2 linked regions of the Homo sapiens genome follow. The protein of the gene in region 2 purifies or fractionates together with the protein of the main gene of each other region. This does not show direct contact. Each region holds a gene or a part of one and is shown on either strand. Other genes may lie near its edges.

Region 1 (3,818 bases), on a different chromosome or scaffold from region 2:
ACAATTTCCATTTAATCAATAAACTAAATGTGATGTGCATTCTTTCTTTGGTTTCCAAAACGTTACCCTACTCTGGTTTTCCTACCTTCTTTCTCCCCCTTCCTATTACATGCTGGTGTTCACAAGCTCTCTTCTGATTCTACACAACTCTCACTAGGAACCTCATCTATACCTGGTATTTCAACTACCACTAACGTTGATGACTCTTCTCTCTCTCCAACTTCAAGAATTGTTTTCCTAGTTTTCTTTGACTAACTTCCTCCGGGCCAAGTTGAATACTGCTCTGTACACCCTACAACTACACTTACAAGATTCTAAAGAGACATTCCTCAATTTTTGTGTATTCTTTCTAGTTCTAGGCCAGGTATTCTTCCTACATGCCCCAAAACACATTCTTATCTATCCTTATAGCATTTAACATGCTTTATTACAAATTACTAATTACTTTGTCCATTTCTCCCATCAGAGAATAAGGTGCTTGAGACTTAGCACTATGTCTTATTCACAATCTCCCCAGTGCCTAGCATAGCATGAGACACATAATAGGCACTCAAATATTGATTAAACCCATATATAAGAGAAATAAAATTTGCTTTAAATTGGAAGCATACCATTTCTGAAGGAAACTTTCAGAGATTTATGTTTTCAAATGAGAAAATAGGCCATGAAAGGTGAAGTGACTCACCCAGTCAAGCCTTGGTCTCCTGAATCACAATTCTCTTCCCACAAAATTACAGTGCCTAGGCCGGGCGCAGTGGCTCACACCTGTAATCCCAGCACTTTGGGAGGCCAAGGCAGGTGGGTCATAAGGTCAGGAGATCAAGACCATCCTGGCTAACATAGTGAAATTCCGTCTCTCTTAAAAATCAAAAAATTAGCTGGGCATGGTTGCATGTGCCTGTAGTCCCAGCTACTTGGGAGGCTAAGGCAGGAGAATCGCTTGAACCCAGGAGGCAGAGGTTGCAGTGAGCTGAGATCACACCACTGCACTCTAGCCTGCTGACAGAGTAAGACTATGTCTCAAAAAAAAAAAAAAAAATTAGAGTACCTATTAAATTGTGCTTAGTGATCTCAGCTTTCTATGAAGCTCTAGAAGTAATACAAAAATGTTATAAAGAACCATTTCAACTTCATCCACTCCAGCTCTGGCTGGCTATATCAGTTGTAGAGAAGTCTGTTATTACATAATACTTTTTCTGCCCAGAATAATCTTTAATTGAACCAGTATTTTCACGTGTCCTTCACACAAAAAATAATTCAATACATACTTATTGAGACATGAAGCCAGCTGGGATTCTGGGTCCGGTGTGGACTTGGAGAACTTTTCTGTCTAGCTAAAGGATTGCAAATGCACCAATCAGCGCTCTGTGTCTAACTAAAGGTTTGTAAACGCACCAATCAGCACTCTGTAAAAACGGACCAATCAGCACTCTGTAAAATGGACCAATCAGCTCTCTGTAAAATGGACCAATTAGCAGGATGTGGGTGGGGCCAAATAAGGGAAGAAGAGCTAGGCACCTGAGCCAGCAGCAGCAACCCACACGGGTCCCCTTCCATGCCGTGGAAGCTCTGTTCTTTTGCTCTTCGCAATAAATCTTGCTGCTGCTCACTCTTTGGGTCCACACTGCCTTTATGAGCTGTAACACTCACCACGAAGGTCCGCAGCTTCACTCCTGAAGCCAGCGAGACCACGAACCCACCGGGAGGAATGAACAATGCCGGACGCGCCACCTTTAAGAGCTGTAACACTCACTGCGAAAGTCTGCAGCTTCACTCCTGAAGCCAGCAATACCACGAACCCACCGGGAGGAATGAACAACTCCGGACGCGCCACCTTTAAGAGCTGTAGCACTCACTGCAAAAGTCTGCAGCCTCACTCCTGAAGTCAGCAAGACCATGAACCCACCAGAAGGAAGAAACTCCGGACACATCTGAACATCTGAAGGAACAAACTCCGGACACACCATCTTTAAGAACTGCAACATTCACCACGAGGGTCCGCAGCTTCATTCTTGAAGTCAGCGAGACCAAGAACCCACCAGAATGAACCAATTCCGGACACATTATCATGCATCTCTATGTGGAAAACAATGTGAAAGAAGTTATAATTCATCAGTACTCTAAAAAATATCCTTAAGAGCATATATTGCATGCCCCTTAAGTTTAACAATATCTGAAATAGCTGCCTTAAAACAAAATGCAATCACACTTGAGAGAGGCTGAATATGAACATCAGAGATAGGCAATGCAACTTCATCAGGAAAATCCCTATAGTCCAATGCTACTGTTTTCAAGGGTTGCTATATTATACTGCAATTGTGTTACTGGGCAACAACTCAGAAGCTAGAATGGCAAATTCACTCAAGAAGTAACTGAATCAAACGAATATTTATGAAAGCATTCTGAGACTCAACTTCACTTTCTATATCTTCAACTGAAGTAACTCTTTGTTATAAGCATTAGATACAGGATTTTTGGTGAGACTGTAAAAACTACATGGACATTTTATAGACATATTTTGAGACAGAAGATAGGTGCTTTCCAAAAGGGAATGGCCAGGTTTAGGTTCCTACTAACTCTGAATTTTAATCCAAAAGCAATCTGAAGTCACAATATACAGAAGGCAAATAACTGGGCATTTCCTTAATTTCTTCCATCCTGGATTATAGCTCAGTTAAAAGAAATAGTAGGCCGGGCGCATTGGCTCACACCTACAATCCCAGCACTTTGGGAGGCCAAGGTGGGTGAATCACTTGAGGCCAGGAGTTCCGAGACCAGCCTGGCCAATGTGGTGAAACCCTGTCTCTATTCAAAATACAAAAAAAAAGCCAGGTGTGGTGGCATGCACCTGTTAGCCCCAGCCACTTGGGAGGCTGAGGCAGGAGAATCACGTGAACCCACGAGTTCAAGGTTGCAGTGAACAAAGATTGCACCACTACGCTCCAGCCTGGGCGACAGAGCAAAACTCCATCTCAAAAAAAAAAAAAAGAAAAAAGAAATAGTACTAGACTTGACAGTCAGTGATCTCTCCATGACCTAGAGAGGGCAGTCCTGATGAAAAAAATATAATTAATAAACTGATATTCTACTAGGAACCAGGAAATTGACCAAACTCCCCAAGCCCACTGAAGAATAGTGCCAGCATTCCTGAGAGTCCTTACTGCTGGTATTGCCATGGGAAATTCTCAAATACTCACTTTCTAGGAACAGAATCTTTATTTCTGATTCCGTGAATTCCCACTCTTCAATCTTTTTTATAGTTTACTGTTGCCATTTCCCCTTCACTTACTCTCTTCTCTCAACAACCTTACTTTCATGATACTTACAAAAGTGGGGGAAAGTAGAAATGCCTATCTGTCATTGTATTAGTCCATTTTCATATTGCTATAAAGAACTGCCTGAGATTGGGTAATTTATAAAGGAAAGAGGTTTAATTGATTCACAGTTCCACATGGCTGGAGAGGCGTCAGAAAACTTACAATCATGGCAGAAGGTGAAGGGGAAGCAAGGCACCTTCTTCACAAGGTAGCAGGAAGGAGAATGAATGCAGGAGGAACTACCAAACACTTATAAAACCACCAGATCTCATGAGAACTCACTGTCACGAGGAACAGTATGGGGGAAACCGCCGCCATGATCCAATTCCCTCCACCTGGTCTCTTCCCTGACACATGGGGATTATGGGGATTATAATTCAAGGTGAGATTTGGGTGGGGACACAAAGCCTAATCATATCAGTCATCTTTAAGAAACATTTATTCAGCAACTTGTATTTGGAAAAGACTAAGGATACAGCTCATCGAGATCTGAAGTCCTGC
Region 2 (4,356 bases):
AAAAAACTTATTAAATCTCAAATTCCCAAGATGTTCCCCCATATAAGGTGGGAGCTCATATCATCACATGTAACATTACAAAACCTGTACTATAAAATTAGATGAATAAATAATAAACCTATACTATTACCAAATTCATAATAAAAAGATCAACTTACCAAATTAAAATCAGCCTATTTATTCCCTTTGTATAAATAACCTAAAGTTCCCCAGGTTTTTATTTCCCAGTTTCCTACAAATGAATTGATCAGAATGCCTCTTTATAGATCAGCTTTCCCATAGTTTCTCTCTCATTTGGCAATAACTTCCCATATTTACTTCATTTCCAGAATAATCTCCCCCTCTTGCAACCCACACAAATGTAAGAGAATGAAGGCATAATTTCTATAATTCATAATTATTTCCCCATTATTGAATTTCATTTTTGAATTATTATAAATCATCCTGAAATCTAATAATATAAATCTTTCTCATCCTATCAGTCTATTAAAATATACAAAACATCATTTAAGATGGTTAACACAAGAAAAGATAACTATGGCAGCCTTCATAAATCAAGCAAAAGATTTCAGAAAAGTGCTTCAGTCTGTTCAGTTATCTCTAACTTTCACTAGAAAATTAAGGGAATGCCACTGTTACAGAAGGTATAATTGCAGATTCTAAAAAGTGAATACATGTGTACATGTAATTTATATCTATTCAGTATCATCTTCTGATTATCTGTACAAATAAAAGGACAAAAGACACAGATGATGAAAACACATAATCCTCAAACCACTTCAGATACATTTTGTGCCTGTATTTCACAGGACCAAGTCTGAGAATTCAGAACACAAAGAAAATTAAGCCATATTGCAAAGAGTTTGTCACAAACACAATGAGCAGAACAATAAAATTGAAATGACATTATTGACTTGACTTTGTCATCTTCTGTTTATTTCTGATGGTGGCTCGAAGTTTACGTATTACCAGTCTATCAGGTAGAATCATATCACCTTGTTGTTCTAGATAATCCAATAAATTTTCAGTCCACTGGAGGGCAGCTGCATGATTAATATGTTTCTCTGGAATTAGTTCTATTTCCTCCTCCTCATTTTCACTGGATTCATCTGCCTGGCCTTGTGCTCTTCTGATGATTTCGCTATCAGTTAACACTTCATAGCCTGGTTCAGTACTGTCTACTTCAAGCCATTTTTCAAGGTTCTCAGTAGTCACATTTTCCAATCCTTTGGTGTGTTGTAAAATGGCAGCCACAGTAGCCACAGAAATATCTTCAACATCAAAGTCCAGGCTCTCTTTCTCCTCTACCATAGGGAGAATCTTCTTCCATGCTCTGCTAATGGTAACTGGTTTTACTAAGTTCCATGCCATTGCTATTTCATAAAGTGCATCCAACAGAGTTAGCTTCTTCCAGAATGATTTCAGGTCATTACCTTCTTCCAAGTTGTTCTGGAGAAGACCTGCACGATAATTTCTCTTCATCGTTGCTATGACTCCCTGATCTGAAGGCTGAATCAATGAGGCCACATTAGGTGGTAAATATTTAGCAAATATTTGGCCATCATCTGACCTTAGGACATTTTCATTTGGATGTGTTGGTGAATTATCCAACAAGAGCACAGCCTTTTCCTGCAAGCCTTTAGATCTTAAATACTCTCGAACTTGCGGCACAAAAATTTTATCAAACCATTGTCGGAAAATGGAAAGATCCATCCATGCACCTTTTTGGCTGAAATAAGAGACTGGCAGGTTTAAGGTGTCAGTTGATTTAAAGGAGCGAGGTTTCTTTGCTTTCCCCACAACACAAAGTTTAAGTTTGTGTAAACCTGTTGCATTGGCACAACACATGATTGTGACTCTTTCTTCAATTGATTTGTGCCCAGGGACAGTGCATTTACCTTTGATTACTGAAATCCTAGAAGGCAAGCACTTCCAAAAGAGTCCAGTTTCATCTGCATTGTAGATTTGTTCAGGCTGTAAATTCTCTCGTTCAATAAAATCTCGAAAGTTATTACAAAAATCTTCCACCGCAGTCTCATCTCCATTTAATCTTTCATTTCTAATGTTAATCTCTCTAATGCTGTGCCGCTGCTTAAAACGAGTTAGCCAACCGGCAGAGGGGTTAAAATCACCATCCATTCCCAAAGCATAAAAGAAGAACTCTGCCCTTTTTGCACAAATTGGTCCAGATATGGGATTCCCTTTTGCTCTTTGCTGGTTGAACCATTCCAGCATTGCCCTGTCCAATTCCTCATACATGGATGGCTTCATAGATTTCCTCTTGGCCAAAAGACTTGTGGAATCAGAACTGCTTGCATAAGTTATAATCTTTTCCTTATTTTTTCTTATATCCCGAACTGTTGTTTCACCAATTCCATAAATCACTGCCAGTTGTTTGGAAGAACCTCCGTCTTCAAGTTTCTTTATTATATCAAGCTTATCTTTAATAGTCAACACCACACGCTTCCGTTTCCCTGACATAGCGAGGTTCTGGGACTCACCCCACACTCACAATGTAGCAATCCACAAAATCCTTCCTTCTCTTACACAGGCTCACTTCAACAGTCTTAACACACTCAGTCTTTCATCCTTACCAGCAACCTGGTGGCCCTGATCCCCTCCCGGGCTGGGGTTGGCTGGCAAATAGACTGCAGAAGAAGGTGAAAGAGGAGGAAGTTTGAGAGAACAGGCCTTTCTTTAACTTATACGGGCAGTAGCGGAGGCCCCATGTCACCGCGGATAATCCGGATTAAAAGCATGTGTTTTATTACCCCAGCAGCCGTGAGAAAGACTATACCCCCATTGTGGCCACGAACCTCCTGCACGTCCAGATCCCGGGTAACCGCGCGTCACTAACCCCTGCCACACCCCAAAGTTACGACAGAGAGCCGAAGAGCCTAGGAGTCAAGGACTGGCACCCTTCCTCAGGGGAACGGATATATTAGATTCCTTCCCCAGCAGCAGGGCCCTCCCGCCGCGCAGCCCCAGTTTCCCGCGCCAGCTTTAGCCGGGACAGTCCTCCCAGTCCCTCAAAACCCGCCAGGCCCCTCTCCCCACCTCTCTTGCAACCAGGACCCGCACAGCTCCCTGACTATCGCGCGGCAGTCGCTCCGCCCCTAGCCACGCTCCCGGAAGATGATCCCTCCCGCCGCCTGGCCCCACCCCTCGCCCCACCCAGAGGCGGGACTTCCCTTGGTCCCCGGAAGGGGGGGAGGAGCATCGCTTGTCCTGAGCTGGTTGCCGGGGCAGGGGCGGAGGCGGAGGCAGAGGTGGAGGCGCTTTGAAAGGTGAGAGCGCGAGGGCGGTGCGGGGCTGTCTCCCGGCTGGGACTCGCTCGCGCTCCCGGTGCTAATGGTTTATGAGAGGGGCGGGGGAAGCCGTGCCTCCTCGCGGACTAAGAGAAAAATTCCCGCGGGCGCTCTTTGGGTGGGCCGGAGAACGCCCCTCAGCCCTTTGCGCCTCTAACCCTCCTCAGCTGAGCTGCAGTGGGCGCGGTGCCCGTTATTTCCGCCTTGGGGAGGTGCTTGGAACTGATGTAGGGAGCTCGGTTGGTGATTTCTCGGGTTTCTGGCCTTTCCAGACCCTTGTAATTGTTTTCTCGGTGCAGAGCTCTTTTGGGGTCTGGGGGTTTCCGTCGTCCTGCGCGCGTCATCGCGAAGCTTGGCCTGAGGGTCCGGTTTCCTAGCTACTGTGCCCCTCCCTCCTGGAGGCAGAGTGACGGACTAGTGGGCTAGCGGGCGCTGGGTTCCTGCGTCCCGCCAAAGAGGTTTGTAATCATGAAAGTCACCCTTCCGGGTGTTAATTCCTGAGAGGATCTATTCCACTGTCTACCACTCATTCCTGCTGCATTAACCTTCATTGTTAACGGATTTTAATGAATAATATAGTTATCCCGGATACCATGCTGGCAGGATCCACTTTGCGAAATTGTGGACTGTTGGACTGTGATTCTAAGTGGGGGAAATAGGCTTTCCTCTCTTTATGTTTATTTTCTTATATCCTATTTCTGTCATGTTCTGTCTTGTTTTCCTGCCAATAGAAGAACTATGATAAATTTATTCATAGCAGTGTGATAAGAACTTGATCTTAATCATACACTGTAGCCCTCAAATCGTGTATTATGCTGGCTTGTTTTTGGTGTCCCTAGTAATTTCATCAGATTGTGAGCTCCTTGGGAGCAGAGACCATGTTTATTTGAAATGGTGGCAGCACAGTTCCTAGCAGGTGCTTGCATTTTGGTAGATATTCAATAATTATTTTTCGGCTTATTAATCTTTGCTCTCCAAACTGCCATATAAAAGAAAACATCGAAGAGGAGTGATGTTTTACACCCAAGAATGGATCCCTCCTGGTAGA

The links.
Region 1: the proteins of JRKL (region 2) and CEP83 purify together in Homo sapiens (affinity purification with mass spectrometry; one large-scale study listed by BioGRID and IntAct). This does not show direct contact.

Annotation. Positions count from the first base shown.
Region 1 is NC_000012.12:94,453,074-94,456,891, forward strand, and holds part of CEP83 (centrosomal protein of 83 kDa), read right to left. Parts: intron 1-3,818. UniProt on the Homo sapiens protein: Component of the distal appendage region of the centriole involved in the initiation of primary cilium assembly.
Region 2 is NC_000011.10:96,388,775-96,393,130, reverse strand, and holds the start of JRKL (jerky protein homolog-like), read right to left. Parts: upstream 3,119-4,356; 5' UTR 3,058-3,118; exon of another isoform or gene 2,649-3,057; 5' UTR 2,482-2,648; coding exon 907-2,481; 3' UTR 1-906.